4 linked regions of the Homo sapiens genome follow. The protein of the gene in region 2 binds, or shares a complex with, the protein of the main gene of each other region. Each region holds a gene or a part of one and is shown on either strand. Other genes may lie near its edges.

Region 1 (7,024 bases), on a different chromosome or scaffold from region 2:
GCTCATGCCTGTAATGCCAGCTACTCAGGAGGCTGAGACAGGAGAATTGCTTGAACCTGGGAGGCAGAGGTTGCAGTGAGCCAAGATCGCGCCATTGCACTCCAGCCTGGGCAACAAGAGTGAAACTCCATCTCAAAAAAAAAAAAAAAAAAGGGAGATCAATTCAGCATGGGATTTTGTGAAAGGATTATTAGATTATTAAGTGATGAGAGAATTTACAGTGGAACCTTGACATGCTTTTTCCGTATCTTGATTTTGTAGATCAAATGTTTCCTAGATTTCAAAGCGGGAGGCTCCTTGTGCCACATTCTTGCAGCTGCCTACAAATTCAAGAGTGACCAGGGATGGTGAGATGATTCTCTCTATTCTTCTTATATTTAGTTTAGAGGAAATCCCCCTTTTTGATTCCCTGGGATCTTTCTGGGGTAGAAATTCTTGTGAGTCTCTTTATTTTGCTGGGTCAGTAGACCTGACTTACTACGTCAGGAAGATGGTTGGGAGTCAGAGCCAAAACAGTCTCCAAGAGTGAGTGTGTGAGTATCACTGTGTGTTTTGTAGAGGAAAAGGGATTCTTAGGTTGGCATCTCAAACCTTTTTTTGTCCCTTTGAAGTAAGCACAGAGAGTGATTCATGGAGTTGAGATCAGTGAACCTCAGATCCCAGGTGATGTTTGGCAATAGCTGTGAGCAAGCTTGCCTCCTAATTTCCCATATTAAGAAGTCATGGCTGGGCGCAGTGGCTCACACCTGTAATCCCAGCACTTTGGGAGGCCGAGGTGGGTGGATCATTTGAGGTCAGGAGTTTGAGACCAGCCTGGCCAACTTGGCAAAACCCCATCTCTACTAAAATACAAAAATTAGCCGGGCATGGTGGCGGGCACCTGTAGTCTCAGCTACTTGGGAGGCTGAGGCAGGAGAATGGCTTGCACATAGGAGGCAGAGGTTGCAGCTGGCCAAGATCGCGCCAGTGCACTCCAGCCTGGGCAACAGAGCGGGACTCCCTCTCAAGAAAAAAAAAAAGGCCGGGTGTGGTGGCTCATGCCTGTAATCCCAGCACTTTGGGAGGCCGAGGCAGGTGGATCACCTGAGGTCAGGAGTTCAAGACCAGTTTGACCAATATGGTGAAACCTCGTCTCTACTTACTAAAAATACAAAAATTAGCCACGTGAGGTGGTGTGTGCCTATAGTCCCAGCTACTGGGGAGGCTGAGACAGGAGAATTGCTTGAACCTGGGAGGCAGAGGTTGCAGTGAGCCGGGATCGCGCCACTGCACTCCAGCCTAGGTGACAGAGCAAGACTCCATCTCAAAAAACAAACAAAAAAGTCACGTGCCCTCACCTCATCTGCAGACCTGAGCTATACCACTCACTAGATTATTGCCTCTTCACAAGGCGGCGTTACGATTTCCAGAATCCATCACGCATGGACCGCAATGTGGAAATGTTTATGACCATTGAGAAGTCCTTGGTGCAGGTAATAGGCATATACCCTATTTATCTCCCTTCCCTCAGTGAGAATCTAAAACACCCCTTTCCTATAATCTCATTCTATTTCTTCTCTCCACAGAATAATTGCCTGTCTCGACCTAACATTTTTCTGTGCCCAGAAATTGAGCCCAAACTACTAGGGAAATTAAAGGACATTATCAAGAGACACCAGGTAAATGGTCTGGTGAGGAGAGGTTTCAGAAACTCCATGACTGTTTTCCCAGTGTTTTCTATACCAAGCAGCAGCCCTGAATTACCATGTTTTCTGCTTCAGAGGTGGCTCTGTCTACTTGGAAAAAGACTTGAGTTAAAGCCTTGAGTCTGTCTTTTTCTGTCTGCTTCTCCCATTTTTCAGTCCTGACAGGTTTGCATTACTGTTCTAGAGACTATGTTGGCCTGGGGAAAAATAGTATCCACTTCTACTGAGCTAGAGATTGCGTGATCTCAGATAAATGAAATTCCTGCTCTTTGGAACTTTATAGTAATGAATAGATGTCATTGATAAGGATGTACAGTGGACTTTAAATTTCCCATGTATAGATTATCTGTTCAGAAGATTATTTTTGGCAATTTTTAATTCTTTGACTTTTCTCCATTATTAGCACAATCCCAGCTGTTTCCCTCTGCCACTTAGCTGGTGTGTGCTTAGAGAATACAAACTAACTTTAATACTATTATAAGCAAAATATGGTTAGGAAGGCAGCTCTGTGGCTAAACCTTGAGTAATTCAGAGGGGACCATAATTTACCCGCTTCTCCTTTTACCATCCAGGGAACAGTCACTGAGGATAAGAACAATGCCTCCCATGTTGTGTATCCTGTCCCGGGGAATCTAGAAGAAGGTGAGACCTGGGTTTTCCTGTCCACTTGAGTGGATGGTTTGGACTAGGAGGCAGAGGACTAAGATCACCATTCAGTACCTGGGCTCCTCCTCTTCTTTCAATCTTGAATCCTCTTACCACCTTAAGTTCCTATTACCAAGTCCCCTGCTACAACAGGAGAGTGCATTAGTTAGGGCTTTTGTACAGTATTTTTTTTGTGTCCCCCTTTAGCTTATATCTCTCCCTTCTCTTCCTCTATCCCCAGAGGAATGGGTACGACCAGTCATGAAGAGGGATAAGCAGGTTCTTCTGCACTGGGGCTACTATCCTGACAGGTGAGGATGGGTTCCTGGGGCAGGTTTAAGTATAAGAGCCAGACCCAGAAGCCCTAGGACATCTAGCAGAGCAAGAGGCCACTCTTTCAGAGTTATTTTTAGATCACTTAATTTGTTTTCCTCTCACCTAGTAAGTGAACCTCTGTCTTGGGGGAGGTTTGGACTTAGTGGACAAGCCTTGGGCTAAAAGGATTGAGGCTTTATGTGTGAATTGATTATCCCAGCATCATTTTCGATAAGTAAATGTTAGAAACAATCTAAATGTCTAACAGTAGGAAAATGTTTCAGTAAATTTGTATATCTACTCAGTGGACTATTATGCAGTCTTTAAAGTGATATAACATGGATAATTTATAAGTGAATATTATTAATAATTGCAAAAAGTAGCATGTAGGCCTGGCATGGTGGCTCACGCCTGTAGTCCCAGCACTTTGGGAGGCCAAGGCAGGCGGATCACCTGAGGTTAGGAGTTCGAGACCAGCCTGGCCAACATGCTGAAACCCCGTCTCTACTAAAAATACAAAAAAAAAAAAAAAATTAGCAGGGCGTGGTGGCACACGCCTGTAGTTTTAGCTACTTAGGAGGCTGAGAAGCAGGATAATCGCTTGAACCGGGGCAGCAGAGGTTGCAGTGAGCCAAGATCACACCACTGCACTCTAGCCTGGGCGACAGAGCGAGACTCTGTCTCAACAAAACAAAACAAAACAAAAAATAGCACGTAGGCTGGGTGCAGTGGCTAATGCCTATAATCCCAGCACTTGGGGAGGCTGAGGTGGGCAGATTGCTTGAGCCCAGGAGTTTGAGACCAGCCTAGGCAACATGGTGAAACCCTGTCTTTACAAAAAAAAAAAATACAGAAATTAGCTGGGCATGGTGGCATGCACCTGTAGTCCTAGCTACTTGGGGGGCTGAGGTGGGAGGATTGCTTGAGCCCAGGAGGTTGAGTCTGCATTGTGCCATGATTGCACCACTGCACTTCAACCTGGGCAATAGAGCAAGACCCTGTCTCAAAAAAAAAAAGCATGTAAAATATCATCTAGTATGGTTATGATTATGTAAAAACATCATCTAGTATGGTTATGATTATGTAAAAAGAAAATTGTGGACCAGGCACAGTAGCTCACTCCTATAATACTAGCACTTTGGGAAGCCAAGGCAGGAGGATCACTAAAGGCTGGAAGTTCAAGACCAGCCTAGGCAGCAAAGTGAGACCCTGTCTTAACAAAAACAAAAACCCCAGCTGGACGCGGTGTCTCATGCCTGTAATCCCAGCACTTTGAGAGGCCGAGGTGGGTGGATCACGAGGTCAGGAGCTTGAGACCAGCCTGGCCAAGATGGTGAAACCCCGTCTGTACTAAAAATATAAAAATTAGCCGGGCGCAGTGGCAGGCACCTGTAATCCCAGCTACTCGGGAGGCTGAGGCAGGAGAATCGCTTGAACCCGGGAGGCGGAGGTTGCAGTGAGCCGAGATCGCGCCACTGCACTCCAACCTGGGTGACAGAGCAAGAGCAAGACTCTGTATCAAAAAAAAAAAAAAATTACTGTGGAGGAAAAACAGATATACAAGTATCAAGAGTAGTTACGTAAGGGTGATTCTTTTTGTTCTCTATTTTTGAAATGTTTCGTAATGTGCTTTTACTACTTTATAATGAATAGAATACAAAAAAAATAAGCCAAGAACCCAATACTTTCTGTAAATGGAAAGGGTAAAAGATCTGCACTTTACTTTTCCACAATTCTATCCCATTGATTCTACTGTGTGCTCAATTTCCCATGGCAGTTACGACACGTGGATCCCAGCGAGTGAAATTGAGGCATCTGTGGAAGATGCTCCAACTCCTGAGAAACCTAGGAAGGTGAGCTTTTCTTGTATCCCCTCTTCCCCAAAAAGAATGCCAGGAACAGTCTACCCTTTGGAAGTGAAACAGAGGCTTGTATGCCCTTGAGCTTTTTCTGTTAAGGGTCCCCAGACAGAGCTGTGGCTTCCAGGCTTCTCTGCAGCATGATCTGCCTTTGTACTTTAGGTTCATGCAAAGTGGATCCTGGACACCGACACCTTCAATGAATGGATGAATGAGGAAGACTATGAAGTAAATGATGACAAAAACCCTGTCTCCCGCCGAAAGAAGATTTCAGCCAAGACACTGACAGATGAGGTGACAAATCCTGTTCTTTTTTTCCTGGCGCCCTTAGCATAAGTCTCAGAACAAATCTTCAGTGGGGATTGTAGGCTGACATTTGTCCTGATTCTCCATCCTATAGGTGAACAGCCCAGATTCAGATCGACGGGACAAGAAGGGGGGAAACTATAAGAAGAGGAAGCGCTCCCCCTCTCCTTCACCAACCCCAGAAGCAAAGAAGAAAAATGCTAAGAAAGGGTGTGCCAGCCCCTAGCCTGCCCCCGTGTTCACCATTCTCTCCACATCATGTTGAAGGAAGGAAAGACAAATCCCTTCCTATAACCACCTGGCCCTGACCTGGGTGTGCCATAATACTGCAGGTGTCCTGAGAGGGAAGATGAGGAGATCTTTAGCTGCTCAGTTGTTAGTTCTGGTTCTGGCCCCACTAGTACATTTAAAGAGAGCTTTATCAAGTGAAAAGCCTTTGCCACTTCCCATTACTGTGTGATTACTGGTTTCTGTTTGTACTCAGCTCTACCCTTGGAATTCTCTGTCACTTCCCTTCCCTTGAACTTCAACTTCCAGGGACTCCTTGTCCAAGGATGACTGGGTTCTCTTTCACTCTCTTTCCTTCCCAGTCCCTCAACACCTTACACTAAGTCAAAGCGTGGCCACAGAGAAGAGGAGCAAGAAGACCTGACAAAGGACATGGACGAGCCCTCACCAGTCCCCAATGTAGAAGAGGTGACACTTCCCAAAACAGGTACAGGCCAGGCTGAGCTCCTGGGATCCACCCCCACTCCCCGTCTTGACTCTCCTTTGCCAAACCCCAAGTGAGCTGATTTCTCAGGTCCACCTCCCAGTCTACAGGATCTTTTCCTTAAATTTAGCTGGTTATTGGAATTACGGTCATTACCCTGGAAAATCCTCTAACTGTATATTCATATCTGAGTTGTGGACTGTGCTTTGTGCCTGATAGTAGTTGTCTCCAAACTCTTTGATTATGTGTTTCTGACAGTAAAATATATTTGAGCATGGCCAGGCACGGTGGCTTATGACTGTAATCCCAGCATTTTGGGAGGCCGAGGCGGGCGGATCACCTGAGGTCAGGAATTCGAGACCAGCCTGGCCAACATGGTGAAACCCCATCTCTACTAAAAATACAAAAATTAGCTGGGCGTGGTGGTGGGCACCTGTAATCCCAGCTACTCGGGAGACCGAGGCAGGAGAATTGCTTGAACCTGGGAGGTAGAGGTTGCAGGGAGCCGAGATTGTACCACTGCACTCCAGCCTGGGCGACAAGAGCAAAACTCCATCTCAAAAAAAAAAAGGGCCGGGCACGGTGGCTCATGCCTGTAATCCCAGCACTTTGGCAGGCCGAGGTGGGCGGATCACGAGGTCAGGAGATCGAGACCATCCTGGCTAACATGGTGAAACCCTGTCTATACCAAAAATACAAAAAAATTAGCTGAGCGTGGTGGCGGGTGCCTGTAGTCCTAGCTACTCAGGAGGCTGAGGCAGGAGAATGGCGTGAACCTGGGAGGCGGAGCTTGCAGTGAGCTGAGATCACGCCACTGCACTCCAGCCTGGGCAACAGGGCGAGACTCCATCTCAAATAAAAAAAAAGAAAAAAAAATGTATATATGCATTAATTATGTACTTGTACTGTTAAGCCGCTACCATGGGAACGTTTTAAAACACAAACATATCTAAAAAATTGAAAAATGTAAAGAATGATAAAAACAAACATGAAGAATCAGGGCGCGGTGGCTTACGCCTGTAATCCCAGCACTTTGGGAGGCCGAGGCAGGCGGATCACGAGGTCAAGAGATCAAGACCATCCTGGCTAACACGGTGAAACCCCATCTTTACGAAAAATACAAAAATTTGCCAGGCGTGGTGGTGGGCGCCTGTAATCCTAGCTATTCGGGAGGCTGAGGCAGGAGAATCACTTGAATCTGGGAGGTGGAGGTTGCAGTGAGCCGAGATCGCACCACTGCACTCCAGCCTGGGCGACAGAGCGAGACTCCGTCTCAAAAAAACAAAACAAAAAACATGAAGAGAAGTTCTGTATTCTCTCCCTGAGTTGCAGTGGATCATCTTTTGCGTCCTATGTTAGAACCCCACTTTGGAGACATTGCTCCACCAATACTGGTTTACAGTCTGTATTCTGTAGACTCACCCCAGGTATTCCAGAAGTGTATTTCAGGGGTAGGATTAGGGCTGCCACCAAGAAGAGTTCTGGCTTCTACCTCCTCATCA
Region 2 (7,839 bases):
CAGGAGGTCAAGACTGCAGTGAGCCTAGATTGCACCACTGCACTCCAGCTTTAGGCAACAGAGTGAGACCCTGTCTCAAAAATAAAAAATCTCTGAAGTCAAAAAATGCTTACATTAATTTGAAAGTTTCCATTGGAAATGTATTATGATACATGAGCCAAAATTAAATTTTAGTTAAACAATATGCATACACGTTACTCAAATTATCAACACATGAAATCAAAGGAAAGTTTGTCCACAGGGCAGAATTTGGTTCTATGTTTACAAGTTATGGCCGGCATGTACACACAGATTGCCAATATTTGTGGGCATATGACAAATAAAGGCTCTAAAATAAGGTATATGTGAAAATCAGTACAAGGCTTTCCAAGTTTCCCTCACATGCTTAGACTCTAGACCAGGCTTGGCAACCTTTTCCATCGAAGCCCAGAGAGCAAATATTTTAGGCTTTTCAGGCCATAGGATCCCTGTAACAACTACACAACCCTTCCCTTGTAACCACAAGCAACCAAAGACAATACGTAAATAAATGAAGGTGCTTGTGTCCAAATAAGGGTTTATTACAAAAACAGGAGGCAGCCCAGATAACGGCCTGCAACAATCTCGTTTGGCTACTGTGCCCTAGACTCCCAATATTATCAGTGGATAATAGACCCCACAACCCAGATTCTCCAGCTCTACCCTGTTTTCAACGTTCATCCTTTTCCACACCATGGGGCAACACTCATGTCCCAAATCCTCCAGGTTATTTTGAGGGCAACATAGAGGGTTCTCAAAGCAAACCGTGCTTTTTAAATTCTGTAAAACAGTGTGGATCACTCTGTCCTGGAAAGCTGCTAAACTTCAATATTTCACAACTATTTCCAGCTACAGAAAACAGAATACCCATAACTCCTTCTGCTCTCACAGAAACAGCTGAGAAAATTAGTTTGTTTCATCATGTTGTCTATAATCAGACTTTCATAGGCTATTTGGGTCAAGTAAAGCTTTGCTCTCGCTTTCCCTTGTTTAAGAAAAAAAAAATCCATTATAAAAGCTTCAAAAGAACATACTACAAACTCCATGGCTCAGTGGTTGGTTCATAATCTTTCTTGAGTCACGCACCTCTTTGAAAATCTCATGAAAGAATTAACCTATCAGGAAAAAAGCCCATAAAAATTGAGTATAATTTTAAAGGGTTCATAGATCACTTAGAGCCTATTCATGGACTACTGGGTGTCCAAGGACTTCAGGTTTTTCCTTATTCTGTCTTATTTTCTCCTTTTTTCTCCTTTCTTCCCAGTCCTACCCCTAACTCTGTCTCCATCACCCGTTTCTTCCCACAGAACAATGGAAAGAACTCAAAGACACCTGGACTAGAACCTTAGCTTACTTAGTTTTGGCTTCCCTGTCTTGGGGAAAGAAGAACCCCAAAAAAGTATGAGTAGTGTCAGAGGGGAAAGCAGGCCACGTTTCTGGATCTTGCTGCCAGAATGAAAACTAAGGCCTAAGTTAGGTCTTAATTGGGCCTAAGATTATCTCTGGGGTTAACCACTGGTCCCACGTGAGTGCTCCCAACTACCCTTATAGTTATATTTAGTTTAAATAGTCATATTGATGCTGTATCCCAAATTTTCTGGGAATAATCACAACTCCAAACATCTGTCCTGTAGTTACCATAAATATCCTTCTAAAGGCAAGAGCATATGTTCTGGTGTTTGCTTTGGGGGAAAAAAACTCATAATAAGTAAAGTCCATCTTGCTGGATAATTCACTCTTCAGTTTTAGTTTCTTCAGGACTAGAGAACAGATTATTTTTCTATTATCTCTTGCCTATATCCTTCTTTCTTTTCTTTTTTTTTTTTTTTAGAAAGGGCCTCTGTCACCCAGGGTGGAGTGCAGTGGCATGATCATGGCTCACTGCAGCCTTGACCTCCCAGGCTCAAGCGATCCTCCCACCTCAGCGTCCCAAATAACTGAGACCACAAATGTGCACCACCGCACCTGGCTAATTTTTTTTTTAAGAGATGGGGTCTCCCTATGTTGCCAGGCTGGTGTTTCTTAATTTTTCAAATCTTTGGTAGAGAAAGAACCAAGCGAAGAAAATGAGTCATTCATTTATTTACTCCACAAGTATTGAGCATCTAAATGTGCTGTGTACTGTTCCAGATGTCAAAATCTCCACCCTGATGGGAAAAAAAAGACGGCTGGGTGCGGTGGCTCATGCCTGTAATCCAGCACTTTGGGAGGCCGAGGCGGTGGATCACTTGAGGTCAGGAGTCCAAGACCAGCCTGACCAACATGGTGAAACCTCGTCTCTACTAAAAATACAAAATTAGCAGGGTGTGGTGGCACATGCCGTAATCCCAGCTACTTGGGAGGCTGAGGCAGGAGAATCACTTGAACTCGGGAGACGGAGGTCGTAGTGAGCCAAGATCGCGCCATTGCACTCCAGCCTGGGCAATAAGAGCGAAACTCCGTCTCAAAAAAAAAAAGAAAAGAAGAAGAAAAAGACAAAACAAAATAAATTCATAAGAAGTATAGTATGTTAGGTAGCGACAAGTGCTACAGAAAAAGTAAAGCACAGGCCATGAACAGACACCGGGGGTTGGGGAATGAGATGCAATTTTAAAAAGGTCAGGAAACACCTACTAAGAAGGTGACATCTGAGCAGAAACCCAGTGAGAAAGTGTATCAGACAATGTCACTGCTCCACTTAGGTCCCCTCCTTTCCCTTTTTGCCGTTTTTGGGCCACCCCTTTCCTACTATAGGGTGCTTTATTCTTAACATCCAAAACCTGCAGTTTTTCTTCAGAGGACTGCCTAGAGACAACACACAGCGCCTCCCCAGCACTGCACTCGCCCAATCCTCCCACCATAATCCCAAAGGCAGGGAAGAAACCAGGCTGGAGTTGCTGGACGAAGCCAGAAAAAGAATGTACTGAAATCCCTTCTGAGGCCTTTGTGTATCGTACTTTAATCCTTTACATGTCTCTGATGGATATATACATATATATATATATAATTTTTTTTTTTTTGAGACAGAGTCTCGCTCTCTCGCCCAGGCTGGAGTGCAGTGGCGCCATCTCCGTTCACTGCAAGCTCCGCCTCCCGGGTTCACGCCATTCTCCTGCCTCAGCCTCCCCAATAGCTGGGACCACAGGCGCCCGCCGCCACGCCCGGCTAATTTTGTTTTTGTATTTTTAGTAGGGACGGGGTTTCACCGTGTTAGCCAGGATGGTCTCGATCTCCTGACCTAGTAATCTGCCCGCCTCGGCCTCCCAAAAGAGCTGGGATTACAGGCGTGAATATTTTTTAACAAGCAATTTCATGTACATTTTCTCAAGCACCACTCAAGCTGCCTGTCCACGGGGCAGACGACTTCTCCTTTAGTCTTTCTCTTGAATATGCTCTTCAATTTCATTAATCTCTATTCATGAGTATAACAATATTGGAAAAATTGGACAGAGTATCACTTGTTCCTCGCTTTGCAGACTAGAGATGCTTCTAGTCCCTGTTGGCACACTCAGGATGGGGGCTACGGGAAGCCCAAGAATTCAGCCTCTCTCTAAATGTCAACTGTTTTCCAGTAACCACAGGTCAGGGATCCCATACGTTCATTCTCCCTCCACAGTGACCCACAATATCCATCGGGTGTTTATGTATCCAAAGAAGAGGCTACTCATTCCATCTGGTAAACCAACATACTCATGATTTAGTGGAAAGAGCCCTGGAGTGGCACAGAGGGCTGCCTCAATACACACTTACTGAGCGTCTAACAATGAATGGGTCAAGCCCTTCGTAGGCACTGGCAATGGGAAGATGACCAATACAGACGGCTGAACCTTGCTTTCAAGGCCTTCATAAAGCACTGGAGATGACAAACACGGTCCGATACAAAGGGTCGGGTTCAGGACTCCAACCATTATTATCAAAGAGCCACGGGAATACAAAGGAAGGATTACTAGGGGGGAAGTTCCAGGAGGGCATCACAAAGAGACCTCTGAGCTGGATCCAGAAGGACAGATGAGTTTAAGCTGAAAGTGGGGACGGTCGTTCCCGCTGGTGGGAACCGAAGGAGCCGAGGCAGCGCTGAGGCGGAGACCAGGTGGCACCCGCGGCGCTGCAAGGACACACAAGCTGTTGCGAGGGGGTCAACTCTCCGGGCCTTGGCTTAGAAACCTGGGACGATTACACCCTAAAAGCGCTTGGAAAAACTGCAGAACTCGTGCTGATTTTCGCCAAAGCTACTCCCCCGCCGTGAGGGCAGGAAGCCCTGCGAGGCGCCTGCGAGGACGCAAACGCCGCGAAGCAAGTCCTCCACGCCTCCATCCCAGGTTTAGTGAAGTGTAGACTCTGACCCACAGCCTAAAGGAAAGCAAGACCGGAGTCGGGGAGGGCCCCTCCAGGAGCGGGCTCAGCGGGAGTCTGGCCGAACTGCTTGCTGCCACAGTGGTTCCGCGGCCTCGCGCTGAGCGCCATCCGCCGTCTCCCACCGCGGCCCCCACCGCCCCTCCGCAAGGCTCGGCACCTCCCGCCACTTCCTCGGTCGCTGCGGCGGCTCCGGCTCCTCACAGCCGCTAAACCCAGGCCTATTCTGTGTTAGGTCGGGCCTCCTCGGCCCTCTTCGCCGTGACGAATCAGCGCCCGGCTGGGAAAGTATCAAAATTCGGGGAGTTTTGAGGATCCAATGGGTCCTGAAAAAAATCCCTGAGTGTGCTAAGCATCACCGCATCTTCACTAGAAGGTTAGTTTTTCTAAAGAGGGTCGGGTGGGGCCCGGAAAAAAAAAAAAATTAAGAAGAGTGTGGAAAGTGCGAGTGCGGAAGCTCCGGACGCGAGGGGCGGGGCGAGCGCGGGACAAAGGGAAGCGAAGCCGGAGCTGCGGGCGCTTTTTCTGCCCGCGGGTGAGTGTTTCCAAGTGGGACGGACCGGGTCGGTGGGTGCAAGTCGTGGTGTCCCCGCTTGGCTAGACCCCGAGTTCCCGGGGGTTGCTGGGGTTCAGCCTTGGCCGTGGGGCCAGAGCCAGGAGCCGGTTGAGGCCTCCTTGAGGCCTAGCAGAGCGAGGGTTGGGAGGGAGTCCCATCTGGGGCCCCCTCCTTGGAGGCAAGGCCAGTCCCCCGAAATTGGTCAAAGCACCTGTGAATACCCCGTTTTAGGGGAGTTGCTAGTAAAGTACATTCTCCAAGACAAAGAGAGCGACCTCAGGAAGCCGTGGGCAAGGCAGGTCCGTGGTTCACCCCCCACCCGGGCAGAAGGTTCCCCCATTGGTTCAGGCAGCGACTTGAGGACGAGCAGAGCTCTGAAATAGTTTGGCCTGGGTTTGAAACCCAACTTTGGCACTTCCTGGCTGCATATGGCTTCAGACAAGTTGTTTAAACTTTCCGAGACTCCCTTGTTTCATCTGTAAAATGGGGATAGCTGTACATATAAAGTACTTGTGAGTGTTAAGCGAAATAGTGTCATAAGCGTACCCCGTATAAAGTATTTCTTGAACAAATATTTATCGGGTATTTATTTTTATGCCAGGCACCAAAGATGGATCCAACGGTGGACAAATGTACAAGCCCACTCTTAAATTTTGTATTCTAGCAAAAGAGAGCAATAATTTTAAAGTATTAACAATGAAGTATAACGTACAGGGAGCTTATGTTAGTTGTCAGGGTCCCCTGCAGCGAGGCCTGCTGGATGTTGACAGCTCCCTTAATGTGAGCAGAAAGGAAATCTACACCAGAGTCAAAGGTTTCTGGCTGTTCTTTAAGAGGGAAAGACTCAGGTTGGACCATTGAGAAAATGAGCTGTTTCTTTCCACACCAGGACTCATTCCTTATGCTCCAGGGAATTTCCTTAAAATTAATAATAGAAGCGAAAAATCAGATCTATTCCACATGTTTGGTTGCAAATACCTCCAATAGTCATAGAAGTTTATTTGCCTTCTTTCCAAAGATGAATTTTTGTCTTTTTGTACCTCACTATTTGTGATGTATGTTGATGTAAAGAACAAGCTCACATGTGCCTGGTTATGTTGTGAGCTGGTAATACTAGGAAAAAATTTCCTAAGAATTGAGCTAGGTCCTGACATGGTCCCTCTTTCCAAGTAGCATACAATCTAGCCATATTGATAAGTTAAAAAAAAGTTATAATAATATAGATCTGTGTAAACTGTATAGGAATACAGATGGGGGAGCAGTTAATTCTGCCCAGGTAATGTATCAAGAAAGTTCCCTTGAGGAGAAAAATTTTGAAATGGGCTGTGAATGATGAATAAAAGTTTTTCAGGTAGACTCTCAAAATTTATTCCCAGCATTTATGAAGCTATTTACCATTATAAGAGAATGTGAAGTTCATTGTCATACCAATTACCTTTTGCACTGCTTCCAGGAATAAAATGCTGCCTAATTTTAATAAAAATTGTTATCCCAAAAGCATGATACAGTTGCTGATCAGGGAGCTGTCAGTATCTGGTAGGCCTTGTTGCGTTGGACCCTGATAATACATCACTTTCTATTCTCATCCTTGTATCAGTCTGATGAAATGTTTACATGGCGTCAGCAAAATGTTTTCCATACAAGAGGTAGCTTAGTATCACAAGAAAAAACCTGAAAGTACATTTCTAAATATCCCCAGTACTTTATTTTAGTCATTTAATTCTAATCAACCAAATGACCTATAAGAACTAGTTAAAATACACAAAAGGCTTAATTACTAGGAATTAAGGTGAAGTAATTTTACTCAGAAATACCAATTAAATTACCCTATTCATTAGGAAAACATTCTCGTATGCTTGCTGAGTTTTGATTCTCTTTTTTTTTTCCTTTTTTTTTTATTTTAGTGTCTCAGATTCATTCTTAAGGAACTGAGAACTTAATCTTCCAAAATGTCAAGTAAGTTTCAATTTTTATATTTATCAATCTATGTTAATAAGAGACTAATGCCCTAGCAAGTGGGAATTCCAAAATACTCTCATTTTTTTTTCTTCAAAACAGGACCATTGGTAGTTTTGTTGCATAGTATTATATCTCAGTTGTTTACAAGAAGTTATTTATTTTCTTTCAAACAGAAAGACCATCTTATGCCCCACCTCCCACCCCAGCTCCTGCAACAGTAAGTTTTAATTTTCTTGTTAATGTAATAGCCAACTCTGGCCTTGATACAAAAACCCAGATGTCTTCCAGTGACAGTCACTCAATCATCACAGCAACAGGATGAAATTCAGCTTAAAAGAAAAAAAAAAAAGCACTTCCTACTAAATAAAATAATTATTTGCATCTTTCCTTGAACCAACCCCAACATTTAAAGAAACAGTACTGTAAAACTCCAACCTCCTGTGCTCAGTTTGTTTTGTTTTTTCTTTGTAAATGGGAAATAAGTGAAAGTTTTACCATTTCTTTCTTATTAATCTTCACTATTAAGAGTCTTTAAGTTGTTACTGAGTGAATGCTCATTCTGGCTATTTTGTTAAACCTAACCTTCAACTGGTTATGTTTTTCTCTCCTTTCTTGTCTCTCTCTAAAATTTTCATATTAAACAATAAAGCTTCTGAAACTACTCATTGTAAATATTTTCAAGCTGTTCAAGTAAAGATTTCATTATCTATGGGGCAGATCTTGCTATTGAATCTTATTCCACTCCATAAATTATATTTTATTGGTTTGGAAGTATATATGTTTTAAGTAGTTGTGAACGTGTTTTTTCACCCAGGAAGCTCTGGCCCAGCTTGGTCAGCATGTAAAATAATTTTCCAACCCACAAAACAGATTTAGCAGTAACTGTTCAGGTCTTGCTGAAATGGCTTCCTTGTTGGTTTTTTGGGAGGGGGGGTTTTGTTTGTTTTTAAAAAAACACTGTTAGCATGACCAAA
Region 3 (7,024 bases), on a different chromosome or scaffold from region 2:
GTCACCCGAGTCCTACAGCGCTGTTAGGAAGTGTCCTGCACTCTTGCTGTTTCTTGCTAGTAGGCTGAGCCTAAAGACTGACTTGATCTCCTTTGCAAGGTTTGGAATTTGAATTGTGGAGGTAAACTGGCTGTAATAGTCTCCAGACAGCTGCCTCTGAGTTGACATCTAATCTGCCATCTGATTGGCTCCCCTCTCACCATTGGGCATTTAGCACTGCTGATGTAAATAGAAGTGCTGAGCAGTACAGTCACAAAAATTCTTGCCACAAATAATAACTGAGCTCTATTACAAGCAAATGTAAGGTTCAGTATTTAAAGCTGAAACTATTATGAATCATAGTTATTAATAAGAGGATCAAATACAGAAAAACAGTTCGCTGGTGTCCAGTATTGGGCATTTACAAAATTCAGATCTTTGATGATAGTCTTAGAATATGCACATTACATATATCATAGACTTTAATTGGAGGCTGAGGATAAGGCCATTGAAAAATAAGTAAACCACGAATTTTACCAATTTTTGGATTTGTAAAGCCTTTATAAAAGTCTTCCCTTTACAAATTCAACTATGGAAAAATTTGAATTCTGTCAGCACACGCAGCTTAATAAAACCTTAAAATTTTTTTAAGATTTTGATAGGCAGCAATATATTTTGGTGATGTGTAATTCACCTGATAAACAAGATTTAAGCTTCATTTTTTTGTGATTTATCAGTTCTGACTGTTCAAAGATATTTGTGGATGAGGAGTTTTGGTTAGAATTGACATATTTAAAAAACGAAATGAGGAAACCACATATTTGTGCAGATAACAATAATTAAAAGGGGAAAAATGAGATATTCCTGTGAAATACTAAGAATCATTTCATATTTGCTTTTGATGTGGAGAATACAGAAATGCCCCATAATCTTTTTTTTTTCTTCATTGTTTTGTTAGATTAGGTAATTTGAGCCTTGTTTGAACTGCTTACACGATGAATTAGGGAAACTATATTCTAAGCAAGTTGTGCTGGGTGTCTTTTTTTCCAAATAATTTTTCTTTCATGTTAATGCTATGAAAGTTTAAAAAATCCTAATCTGTTAGAGAGGAACAACAGTCGTTGTATGTATATTTTTATGTAACTCATTTATTTTAGGAAGAGGTATTTTAACAATAATCATACCTTAGAGACTTGTCAGAGTGAAGGAAGGGCTGAATTTAACAAATAATCTTGTGAATCCTAGGCTGAACACTGCTGTCCACTGCTTTCAGATCTTTAGTTATTGGAGTTTTGCTTTTAAGGATAATAGATTTTTCTATTCTTAATAGAAAACTTGTGATTTCAACTTGTTTTTGATTCACACGAGGAAAAACATTATAGAGAAGAATCATGGAAATAAACCCACGTAATTAATTTTAAAAAGGTTTGCTTTGTCAGCCTGCTTTTAAAGGAGCAGTTTAAAATTCACATCTTCGTAAACTAGAGACGAATGAAGTTAGAGGCAGATGTAGGACCATGTTACTTTAGAGTATTTTTTTCTTAATGGTACCAATCATTTTCAGTATTTTGTTTTCTTGTAATGAGAATGAATCCATTATGTCCCTATGACCCTTGGGAATAGGCTTTTTTTTTTTTTTTTTTTTTTTTTTTTTGTTGAGGTTGGGGGAAATATGGACATGCGACCTAGATTCAGGAATTTCTTTTAAGTACCTTACCGTGTAACATGTGGAATGTGTCTTTTTTACAATCCTTTTTTTTCTTTTCTTTTTGGAAGTTAGTATTATTTAGTATTAGTTGTTGTAATTATACTAAGAAACAGTCATTTGTCCAAAATATTAAATTACTGCCTGACTGTAGGTCATGAAATGCTATTAAATCACATTGTTAAATGATGAAATATTTTGGCTTTTAATATGTTTTTAGTTTCATTTTTGATTTCAGGAAATAGTTTCTATTGGGTGGCAAATGTTTTCGTAATTGGGACAAAACGTGTATATATTATAGGAGAAGGGTCTTTTTAAAAAGTGAAATAAGCCATTTGACGATTCAGTTTATTACTAGATTTTTGTAAGATGAGTATTCAGATGGAGCAGTCTCAAAAGGAATATTGAGGTCTACTCACGCACATAGGTTTTATGATGTCCACATTTCTACTGAATTCCATAAATGCAGTTTTAACTTTTAGTTTTATAAAACGTAGTACAATGTATTAAGAAAAGGGCCTTATTTACCATTAGAAGAAAAGTGATTAGCTAGCATGCGAAGCAGGAAGCTACAAACTGGTTCCTGATTACCTTAAAATGTGTGTGAGATACATTATTTGATAAAATCACTCCCAGTTAAATTTTAGGGTGTCTGATATTTTAAATCTTGTAAACAAATTTTTGTGGCCTAAATTTATATATTTGCCAAAGTATGGATGGCTGTGTATAGTTAGAAAAGGTGGACTTAGTAACTGTGGCTAATGGAAAGGGCCTATCATTTAAAAAACAGGAAAAGAAAATATAACAAATGTCTGCAGTTTTGTTTTCTGAATCATCTGGGATGAAATTATGCATGGCTTAAAATCGTTTTCATTGGGAGTCCTGATTTTTGTGGTACATACTTTTGACAATATTTTGGTAGTTTTTTTTTTTTAGTGGTAGCCACTCTTTAAGACAGCTATCACTTAGGTTTATGTTTATATTAATACTACATCAGTAAGTATATGCTAGGGACTAGCACATCCTTACCTTGAATCTATAATGAGGAACCTTAACCCCTCTTTGCTTTGGCTCTGCTTGTCTATATTTAGTCATGAATTTTTGGCAAGGCTTTTTATACTTGTTCCATTTTTCTCAATGTCATAGTGTATCAGAAGTGTGTTATGGATGTGGAAATAATGCAGATCACACTTGGACACTTTTACTAATATACTTAACCTCTGAATGTCATTTTCCTTTACTGAAATTGAAGAAAATAACGTCTTTATTCTGATATTTAAAAAAAAAAAACATTAATTCTGATTTGAGAACTGATTTTAAAAATGTAAGACAATGTAGAGGAAGACTTAATATAAGCTCATTTGATCGTTTTATTAGACACAGATACCTTTTAAAGAGAATAGGTGTAATAGAATGCGGTTGAGTTTTCAGTTCTATTTTTTATTAATAGACTTTATTTCTTTATGATTCTGGGCAGGGTGTATCTATCTAAAAAGATGACTTCTGATGTAATAGGAACACTTGCTTTCCTAGGATAAATTCCAATATCACAGGCAAACCGAAAAGATGATCATTTCATTTATTTAACCCTACCCTTTCCTAGGAGATGAGTGATTTGATGAACATTTGTTAGGGTTCCATGAAATTTTCTACTCCGTTTGGAGACTCACTGGGGATGTAAATTTTGGATGTGCTGGCCTAGGACTCTGTATTCGCTTTTTTGCCGGTGTCCTCAATCTGGAGGCTTTTCTTGCAGCTCTACACTGGACTGACACTGCTCAGCTCATGGGGTTGTGTGCTTTGATCCATGTGGGTGGAAAAGGGACTGATATTTCACTCGTGTCACTTTTGTTTTGGAGTGTATGTGTAGATTTGTAAATTTGAGATTGATATTTATGTTTGATAGAAGTGTGGTGTGTTGCATAAAATGACAGATTTATGGAGGCTGAAAATATTAATAAAACTTAATTCCATTTTTTTTTTGCAATATTTAGGTTTTCCAGTTGGATGTTATAAAATTTTTATGACATTTTACACTGCTGTTATTACTCAAGGGGCCGTATCCACCTCTTAGGCCTTTTTGGGATTGGGTGGTTTTGGTTGCATGCCTTTTCGGAGGTGCCCTTTCCTGAATGGGAGGGAGGTTTTTGCAGGTTCTCTGTGGATATGTAAAGTAGTGCCGCACGCTTGCTGTGTGTGCTTGCTTGAGGCTGAGGAATCCCAAACCCTGTTCCCTGTCGTGTCCGGGAGAGGCACCAGGCAAAACTGTTCCTCTACCAAGAATATATTTCTGTATCATAGATGTAGAACTATTATAAATATCTTTTCTCTAGCTTGGAGGCTATTTGAATGAGACTCAATGGCCCTTTTGGTTTAATTGGGTAATTGAGTGAATTAATTCTGATCTAAAAACTTGGTGTACTTTAGCAACTTTTTCTTCAGGAAATTTGGTAAAGATAAAATGACTTAGGTATCAGTCATTACCTGAGTGTCCTAAGTATTCATTTGTTTTTCCTTATACTGACATCTGAATGAATGGAATGATAGACATATACTATATAGTTTTAATTAGCAATTCACTTTGAGTGAGTGAATTTTTTCAGAGTAGAATATGTGTTTCCACTGTAAGTTTTCACTAAATATGTTCTATTTTCAAAATCTTTGACTTGGAGTAATTCTAAGAAAATTCTTTCCTTACATTTAGTTATTTGTTTTTCTTTTTGAGACAGGGTCTCACTTTGCCACCCAGGTTGGAGTGCAGTGGCGCGATCTTGGCTCACTGTGGCCTTGACCTCCCAGATTCAAGTGATTCTCCTGCCTCAGCCCCGCAAGCAGCTGGGACTACAGGTGCACGCCATCACACCTGGCTAATTTTTGTATTTTTCGTAGAGATGGGGTTTCGCCATGTTGCCCAGGCTGGTCTCGAACTCCTGACCTCAAGTGATCCACCCTCCTCGGCCTCCCAAAGTGCTGGGATTACAGATGTGAACCATCCTGCCAGGCAAGATTTACTTACTTAAATAGGATCCAGTAGGCAGTTTTCAAACCCACATCTGTATGGATCAATGCCAAGAATATTAGAAGGCTACTGAGTTTGACAGATGAACTAATGATGAAATTAACTTGTTTCTTGGATGAGATTTATTACCAGGCACCAGACTAAAGCCCTAAAATCTTAAGCCTATCTGGTTTATGAATAGCTACTCTTATTTCCATTATTAAAATCAGGTAGATGGCAGCAGAATCTGGAGGAGATTCACCCTCTGTTGACCATCTTCTGTAAGGTGCACTTCTCAGTGTCTTCCTGGGCCTTGATGAATGATGAGCTGGAGAACTAGACCAGAAGCCATTCCTTATCAGGTGACTCTGGAAGGGAAGCCATATTTGATGAAATCCAGAAGAAATCCTGGACCATAATGCTACATTTTTTCTTTTTTTGTAATGGGATGCTAAAAAATTAAATATATGGTTTTTTTTTTAAATAGAGGTAAGCTATACGTACATAACATACAACTTACCATTTGAACCATTTTTAGGCATACATTCCAGTGGCATTAAGTACATTGTCATTGTTGTGTGGCTGTCACCATCATCATCTATCCCCAGAACTTTTCCTTCTCAAACTGAAATAAAAATATTTTTCTCTTTCTTTTAAAATTGTTAGCTGCTAATGTGTATTGTAAGTAAAATAATCTTGTTTTTGTAACCATTAATCTTATCACTTCATAGTTTGTGAGTAAATTCTTCCGCAGACATTCCATCAGGATGCTAATGGTTTTTTTGTTTGTTTGTTTTTGTTTTTTATTAGTACATTACTTCCTCTCAATTCTAACTTTGGGGTAATCCTCATAGAGTTTGAGGATCTCTTTGGAGATGTGTATTACAAAGGTTAGTAGTTTCACTGCCAGTTATGTTATTAAAATTTTGAAAAGCAGCTTTTTGGAACCTTTCTAAAGTTTAAAGGTTGAGGGTATTTGTTGAGAGAAACCTGGGACTTGGTTAGATAATAGGGTGTGGAAATGAACTGTTACCATTCTCACTTTTCCCTTGCTTTTCTTCCCTCACCTTTTGCATTTGTAGTCTCTTAAAAATTATTAATTTTATTTTCCCACTATTAGTGAAAATCATTTATAGTGATATTTTTTTCTATTCTTTCTGTGTTTGAAGTTTCTGGGCATCTCACCCCTACCAACCCAGAGCAAACCCAGAGTCTAGGTGGTGCCATGTCCTTTTCCATAGTGTTCTCTGCCACCAAATTTGTGCCTCCCCCTCATGTTTTTACTTTTTAGTCCTCTGCAAAACTTCAGAAATTCTTTGTATGTGGAAAAATTACTAAATTAAGATGATTGACCTTTTAGAATTACATTTTAAAGGCAGCTGTGAAGGGAGACTTCTAGATCCTGCCTAGTCTCATGAACAGGCGTCTTTGGTTTGTGTAAGGTATTGGAATTGTACTGGAATTGCTGCTGATGCTGATAGGTAGTCACATCTTTGTAAGATCAGTTATGTACTTTAACACCAGCTTCCACAGAGAGGAAATGAACTGTTACTTAAGAGCTTGTACTGGGAAGCAATAGTTATTTCTTTAAGGTGTAAACATTTAGCATTTGTGTATGCAGTGAGGTATATGTTAGATAAATATCTACTCCAGACAGTCAATTGGCAAATATTTATTGAGCTCCCACTTTCTTAATCAGCCCTGTGCCAGAGACAGACAATAGCTGGGGTCTGGGGATTGCTGCTGTTGGTGTGCGGATCATGCAGAGATACTGCTAACGCTTGCTCCCTCCATACCTGGATCGTGGTATTGCTGACATCATTGACTTAGAACTGGCTCATTTAAACAAATTGCAGATAGCAACCATGTGGGTCAGCAGTCTATTTGGCCTGCTTTTTTTTTTTTTTTTTCCGGTGGGGCAGTATATTTTGGCAAAACAAAATCTGGTCAACAACAATTGTAGGTTGTTGTGATATAGTTGATGTGATCTAGTGACTCTTTTCCATTTCTACCAATCAGTTACTGGCTTTGTGCCAGAGCGAAATATAGATTCACTACCGAGAATAATAACTAAAAGAAGGAAAATATAATCACTTTCAAATTTATATAGAATGGTCCTTTTTCTTTTTCTCAGTTTTCTACATTACATAGATTCTTGGAAAAAAAGTTAAAACAGTCTGTTCAGATTTAGGAAGATACTTGGATTGCTGGGGTATTTTTGGTAACTGTTTAGATAATGTATGCTGGCTGAGGAGTAAATTCAGCTACTGCTTCTGGGTCCTGAAATAAACCTTTCAGAAAGCGAGGCATTGATGATTAGTGGAGGCAGTTCCAGAATTCTT
Region 4 (7,024 bases), on a different chromosome or scaffold from region 2:
GACACACCACTATATAGAAAATCAGATAGAGACTCCATGCAAGTGGCTGCTAAAGAAAATGTAGATGGTAAAGTCCCAGGATAAGGATGGAGAGCATTTGTTCGCATTGTATAAAGCTAATAACTATATGGATGCTACCCACAAATAGGTTATATGCAGAGGAACCCCCAGATGCCCCAGTACAGTTCCCCCCAGCCCGGCTCAGCCTTATCTCCGCGTCAGCCTTCCGGAGGACAGATACACACAGGCATGGGCTCCTACCAGCAGAACTCCATGGGGAGCTATGGTCCCCAGGGGGGTCAGTATGGCCCACAAGGTCAGTATACTACCCAGTTAGGAGTAGATACGGGTGAGAGGAGAAAACAGTTCCTTGTCTGATATGTTGCCATCTAGCTTGTAACCTTGTGAGAGAAGGGCTGTCCTTTGCCTTTAATCCACCCAGCCCAGGCCCTGAAGTAGGGCAAGGCAAGATTCCATTTGTCTCCACTTATTCTGTCACCATGAGAAAGTCTTTCAATTTCACTGAGCCTCTGTTTCATTTATAAAAATGGAGATTAGGTGTTTACTCCACCATTGAGCACAGACAATTTATACATGGTAGCTCTTGGTTATTATTTTTTTATTAATTATTTTTAGTGAATAAGTCATAATGGAATAGATCTTTGCTCAAAATTGCAGCCCTAGGCTGATCAAAAGTTGAGAATCTTACACAGAGCATGGAAATAGAAAGGAAGTTATCTTCTTCTGGAAGTTGAAATGCCTGTGTGGCAGCAAAGCCAGCCTTGCTCTGACCTGCCTTTACATGCTTCTGGAATCCCCCCCTTTTTCTCATGGCGATAAAGGCTACCATGAAGTTGATCTCTTTCCTAACCAAAATATTGAATGACATTGTTTGGTGTTCTAGAGTTGAGAGATATTAGTGAGTTGCTAGTGAGTGACTAACCAAGTCTTGTCTTCCTCCCCTCCCAGGTGGCTACCCCAGGCAGCCAAACTATAATGCCTTGCCCAATGCCAACTACCCCAGTGCAGGCATGGCTGGAGGCATAAACCCCATGGGTGCCGGAGGTCAAATGCATGGACAGCCTGGCATCCCACCTTATGGCACACTCCCTCCAGGGAGGATGAGTCACGCCTCCATGGGCAACCGGCCTTATGGCCCTAACATGGCCAATATGCCACCTCAGGTTGGGTCAGGGATGTGTCCCCCACCAGGGGGCATGAACCGGAAAACCCAAGAAACTGCTGTCGCCATGCATGTTGCTGCCAACTCTATCCAAAACAGGTAAGGCCTGGGAAGCAGAGAGGGTGTCAGTGCAAGAAAATGTATTATAGACCCACTCAGATTATTGAGATGCTTCTGGACCTAAACCAGGGGGGGAAAATGGGTGTGTGTGTATGAAGTGTTAATTCTTACATACCTTAGATGGGTCTGAAATTTCACGTGACTAAACATCATATGTAATGAGCTTTATAAAAGACAGGTTTTTGGCCGGGCGTGGCGGCTCATGCCTGTAATCCTAGCACTTTGGGAGGCCAAGGCGGGCAGATCATGAGGTCAGAAATCAAGACCAGCCTGATCAACATGGTGAAACCCCGTCTGTACTAAAAATACAAAAATTAGCTGGGTGTGGTGGCGCACGCCTGTAATCCCGGCTATCGGGAGGCTGAGGCAGGAGAATCACTTGAACCCAGGAGGAAGAGGTTGCAGTGAGCCAAGACTGCGCCACCACACTCCAGCCTGGGCGACAGAGCGAGACTGTCGAAAAAAGGGGTTTTGTGGGGTGTTTTATTTTGGGGTCTTTTGAGACAGGACCCTGCTCTGTTCCCCAGGCTGAATTGCAGTGGCATGACCACAGTTCACTGCAGCCTCGACCTCCCAGGCTCAAGTGATCCTCCCACCTCAGCCTTCTGAGTAGTTGGGACTACAGGCACACACCACCACACCCAGCTAATTTTTTTTATTTTTTATATTTATTTATTTATTTAGAGACTGTCTCACTCTGTTGCCCAAGCTGGAGTGTAATGGCACACTTTCAGCTCACTGCCACCTCTGCTTTCCAGGTTCAACCAATTGTCCTGCCTCAGCCTCCCAAGTAGCTGGTGTTACAGGCACCCGCCACCATGCCCTGCTAATTTTTATATTTTTAGACTGGGTTTCACCATGTTAGCCAGGCTGGTCTCAAAATCCTGACCTCCAGTGAGCTGCCTGCCTTGGCCTCTGAAAGTGCTGGGATTACAGGCATGATCCACCATGCCCGGCCTTTTTTTTTTTTTTTTAAATAGAGATGGGGTCTCAGTGTGTTGCCAGGGCTAAAGACTGCTTATTTTGATGTGCAAAATAAGTGTTCAGAGTAGGTGGTTTAACTTCTATCAGTCAACTTTTTGGTTTCCAAAAGGATTCTTAATGATACATATGTCTTGGATCTTTGGTGTTAGAAATAGCAAATGGTAAGCTTGTGGTTTGCCATTTCTCCTACTGTTTTATGTGGTCCTACGTGTTGACTCTGGTGCTAGAGTACAGAAGGCTCATGTGATTAGGTTTAACAACTTCTTTAGCCACTAAATCTTACTGAGTTGTTGTTGATGAACCAAGGTAGAATAGGGCGATTGACTATAAAGAGGTGGATTTGGTAGAACTTCAGAATGATGGAAGTGCAAAGTTTGCATTGGGCCCCTCAAGAAATAATGCAAAGCCACCTCTGGGTGCTATGCTGAGGGTTCCAGTCTGGTTGGGATTTAGCATGACAAAAAGTGGTACAGTTCAGCATTTCATCTATGCCTTTTGCCACAGACAGGGCCCTTAAATGGAAATACAACTTGACTTTGGAGGTGGCTTTGAGGAAGGCAGTACTTAAAGGACACAGCAGGGCTCTGCTTCAAAGAATTACACCCTTTGAAATTGAGCTATTGTGGCCGGGTGCGGTGGCTCACTCCTGTAATCCTAGCACTTTGGGAGGCTGAGGCAGGTGGATCACCTGAGGTCAGAAGTTCAAGACCAGCCTGCCCAGCATGGCAAAACCCCATCTCTACTAAAAATACAAAAAAATAGCCAGGCATGGTGGTGGGCGCCTGTAATCCCAGCTACTCACGAGGCTGAGGCAGAATGGCTTGAACCTGGGAGGCGGAGGTTGCAGTGAGCCGAGATCATGCCATTGCACTCCAGCCTGGGAGATGAGTGAAACTCCATCTCAAAAAAAAATTGGCCGGGCATGGTGGCTCACCCCTGTAATCCCAGCATTTTGGGAGGCTGAGGCAGGCGGATAACGAGGTCAGGACATCGAGACCATCCTGGCTAATACGGTGAAACCCTGTCTCTACTAATAAAGTACAAAAAATTAGCCGGGCGTGGTGGCAGGTGCCTGTAGTCCCAGCTACTTGGGAGGCTGAGGCAGGAGAATGGCGTGAACCCGGGAGGCGGAGCTTGCAGTGAGCTGAGATCGCGCCACTGCTCTCCAGCCTGGGCAACAGAGCGAGACTCCATCTCAAAAAAAAAAAAAATTGAACTATTGTTTGCTATCTAGAGCTTGAACTCTCTTAGTATCTTTCGTGGGAGGTAGAAGATAAGAAAATCTGGGTGTTGGCCGGGCTCGGTGGCTCATGCCTGTAATTCCAGCATTTTGGGAAGCCGAGGCAGGTGGATCACCTGAAGTCAGGAGTTCGAGACCAGCCTGACCAACATGGAGAAAGCCCATCTCTACTAAAAATACAACATTAGCCGGGTGTGGTGGTACATGCCTGTAATCCCAGCTATTTGGGAGGCTGAGAAAGGAGAATTGCTTGAACCTGGGAGGCTGAGATTGCAGTGAGCCGAGATTTCACCATTGCACTCCAGCCTGGGCAACAAGAGTGAAACTCTGTCTCAAAAAAAAAAAAAAGAAAATCTGGGTGTTAGCTGGACATGGTGGTGCATGCCTCATAGTCTTAGGCACTCAGGAGGCTGAGGAAGGCAGATTGTTTGAGCTCAGGAGATTAAGGCTGCAGTAAGCTATGATCACACCACTGCATTCCAGCCAGGGTGCCAGAGCAATACCCTGTCTCAAGAAAATAAATTAAAGAAAAATAATATCTGGATGTTGCATAGTTCTAGTTTTGGGGACCCATAAATGTTTTCCTTTTAATCCTTACTAGATGATCACACAGCACTATTTGGCTCCAGTTCAAATCTAAAAGCTCAGAGTCTAACCTTTGTCTCTCTCACTTTCCATCTTCTTCCTTAGGCCGCCAGGCTACCCCAATATGAATCAAGGGGGCATGATGGGAACTGGACCTCCTTATGGACAAGGGATTAATAGTATGGCTGGCATGATCAACCCTCAGGGACCCCCATATTCCATGGGTGGAACCATGGCCAACAATTCTGCAGGTAAGTGCTAGTCATTCTCACTAGGGATTTCTTCAAGAGTCACATCACAGCTAAACTTACTGGACTTGAGAATTTTTTTCTCTTTTACAGGGATGGCAGCCAGCCCAGAGATGATGGGCCTTGGGGATGTAAAGTTAACTCCAGCCACCAAAATGAACAACAAGGCAGATGGGACACCCAAGACAGAATCCAAATCCAAGGTAGTGATTTTTGTCTTGACTCCTTTCAACTTTGTGTCCTATCTTTTTCAGTGATAGGAAGGAAAAAGAAAAGAGAGTGACAAGATCCCAGCCTTTTATGACACCGGACTAGATAGTCTCTGAAAAAGCTGCTGTTGCCTCCTCTTATCATGAAAGGTCCCAGAATAATAGCTCAGTGAGTTGGGTCTGGGTTGGTCTAAGGGATCCTGGTAAATAACATAATATTCTCACAGCTGTTTGTTATGGGGGAAATGCCAGACACTGCAGCATCAAACTCTCTGTACTGTTTGGCTGGTGCCCTCTGTGAAACCGTGCCTCCTATACTCAAGCATTGATAGATGGGGTGTGCCATGGGCAACTAGTTGCTCTTCTCTTCCTGAACCTTACTCATAGCAGCAGGAATGGTACCCTGTGTTCTGTAAAGAAGGAGATAAGGCAGATGAGGCTTGAGTCCTTGGCTTCCCTTAGGTTGGTCCTGGGTGTACTGTTAGGCTGTGCGGTAGTAAAGGGTCCTACTCAGCATTTGGGTCATTTGTAATATTTCTGTCCTTGGCCATACCTCACTTTCCCTATCTGTATACATAGGGAAAATAAAAATCATAGCTGTTAATTCCTGTGAGTCTTCACCTCTGGCTCCCAGCCCTTTTGACCACGTTCCTGTCTTGTACAGGATAATATCCAAAGCCCTTCAACCAGGTGGGAAACCTTTCCTTTGTTTAGAAGAGGCAAAGAGTTTCTTTTCATTTTAGTCCATCCCATTGCCTCAAGATCATGTTGTGAGTTTTTCGATTTCTCTAAAACATAGTACCTAAGTATGTTCAGGCTCCTGGGTAGTAGTGTGGGAGCAGTAGTGGCTTTGATGTCAGGTGGACAAGGATTTGATACTCAGCCTGCCACTTAAAAGCTGTGAGATCTTAGGCTTTGCCTCCTGGTGCCTGCTTCCTTATCTTTACAAATGGGGATAATTTTATAATACCTAATATATAAAGGCATCTAGCACAGCACCCAGTACATAACATATATTTAGTGTTAGCTTCCTTCCTTTATAGGAAAAAAAAATTTGGTTCTCTTTTGGCCCTTCAACCTTATGAAGGTAGGACAGGTGTTAGTAACCACCCCAGAGTAAGAAGCTTTAACACTGCTCCAGTCAAGAGACTTCTGAGACCCTTAGCACAGGCTTTGAATCTGACCCATTCCTATGAATTTTGACCTGAACCTTCCAGAAATCCAGTTCTTCTACTACAACCAATGAGAAGATCACCAAGTTGTATGAGCTGGGTGGTGAGCCTGAGAGGAAGATGTGGGTGGACCGTTATCTGGCCTTCACTGAGGAGAAGGCCATGGGCATGACAAATCTGCCTGCTGTGGGTAGGAAACCTCTGGACCTCTATCGCCTCTATGTGTCTGTGAAGGAGATTGGTGGATTGACTCAGGTGAGTGGGCGCCTGACACTTGACTGCCCCTGTGGTTTCCACAAACCCCTTTCTAGGTACTCACTGGCTTCATGTGGTACCATGCATCCCACAGGGACATCATCCCCTCTCCCGCTTTCTGAGTCTAATATTGATAGACCGGGGAGCACAGGTTTCCCAGAAGATAAGGCAGGAAGCAGAGACCTCCCTGGTAGTATGAGGTATTAGCAGTAAGTTTACCGTGTATCTATGGTCCCACTGAGGTGTAAAGCTAGGGAAAGTCTGTGGGCATTCTGATTCCATGGGAGGCAATTTGGCATAGTAGCAAAGACAGGATTTGGAGAGATGGACCTGGTTTTGAATCCCTTCTTGGCCACTTATAACATATATGACCTTAAGGTGTGTAACCACTCTGAACCTTAATTTCATTATTTGTAAAATACAAACAGTATGTAACAGTATATAACCCACTAGACTGTCAAAAGTTAGAAATAACTTTGGCTTTCAGCAAGGTTTCTGCCACATAAATCGGCCTGCAAGATGGTACAGAGGCAGCCAGAGTAGAAGTAGATCTTCCCATTCCTGGAAGCTTCCCAGTAGAGATAGGATTTCAGGAACTGCTTAGTAGAAATAGTTTATAATAAAGGAAGAAGTAGTAGGAAATTATGTGTTTAGTTATTCTGTATGGGAAACTTAAATGAAAACCTGAATTGGACACCACCCAGAGCTTGTGCCTACTCTGATACCTTACAATTTTGTAGACTCAGCCCAGGAAGCAAACAGGTGAGGCAGCACAGACAGACAGCAGACTGTGCCTTGCAGACTTCCCTCCTGTGTATGTTCTGTAGTCACCAGACCAGAAGCCTGCTGTTGGATCAGTTTGTGGCTGAGCTCGGGGAGGTGTGGCAGGGAGGGATTTATTCCAAACCTTCTAAATCAGAAGAGGAAAACAGCTGTCACCAGCAGAAAAGAAAGTGGTTGGAATGAAGCCAGCCAACAGTCAGTTATGAATTCCTTCTCCCTTCAGGCTTTATTCCCCTCCCCCACAA

What was found.
Region 1: SMARCE1 (region 2) and SMARCC2 share a complex: the UniProt entries of both Homo sapiens proteins name them as parts of the BAF complex.
Region 3: SMARCE1 (region 2) and ARID1B share a complex: the UniProt entries of both Homo sapiens proteins name them as parts of the neuron-specific chromatin remodeling complex.
Region 4: SMARCE1 (region 2) and ARID1A share a complex: the UniProt entries of both Homo sapiens proteins name them as parts of the neuron-specific chromatin remodeling complex.

The regions. Positions count from the first base shown.
Region 1 is NC_000012.12:56,179,478-56,186,501, reverse strand, and holds part of SMARCC2 (SWI/SNF complex subunit SMARCC2), read left to right. Parts: intron 1-261; coding exon 262-347; intron 348-1,390; coding exon 1,391-1,472; intron 1,473-1,565; coding exon 1,566-1,658; intron 1,659-2,257; coding exon 2,258-2,327; intron 2,328-2,571; coding exon 2,572-2,641; intron 2,642-4,422; coding exon 4,423-4,498; intron 4,499-4,666; coding exon 4,667-4,798; intron 4,799-4,904; coding exon 4,905-5,020; intron 5,021-5,400; coding exon 5,401-5,525; intron 5,526-7,024. UniProt on the Homo sapiens protein: Involved in transcriptional activation and repression of select genes by chromatin remodeling (alteration of DNA-nucleosome topology).
Region 2 is NC_000017.11:40,644,819-40,652,657, reverse strand, and holds the start of SMARCE1 (SWI/SNF-related matrix-associated actin-dependent regulator of chromatin subfamily E member 1), read left to right. Parts: upstream 1-4,839; 5' UTR 4,840-4,885; intron 4,886-6,810; 5' UTR 6,811-6,855; coding exon 6,856-6,862; intron 6,863-7,038; coding exon 7,039-7,082; intron 7,083-7,839. UniProt on the Homo sapiens protein: Involved in transcriptional activation and repression of select genes by chromatin remodeling (alteration of DNA-nucleosome topology).
Region 3 is NC_000006.12:156,780,372-156,787,395, forward strand, and holds part of ARID1B (AT-rich interactive domain-containing protein 1B), read left to right. Parts: intron 1-7,024. UniProt on the Homo sapiens protein: Involved in transcriptional activation and repression of select genes by chromatin remodeling (alteration of DNA-nucleosome topology).
Region 4 is NC_000001.11:26,762,004-26,769,027, forward strand, and holds part of ARID1A (AT-rich interactive domain-containing protein 1A), read left to right. Parts: intron 1-148; coding exon 149-316; intron 317-969; coding exon 970-1,282; intron 1,283-4,217; coding exon 4,218-4,363; intron 4,364-4,453; coding exon 4,454-4,563; intron 4,564-5,786; coding exon 5,787-5,996; intron 5,997-7,024. UniProt on the Homo sapiens protein: Involved in transcriptional activation and repression of select genes by chromatin remodeling (alteration of DNA-nucleosome topology).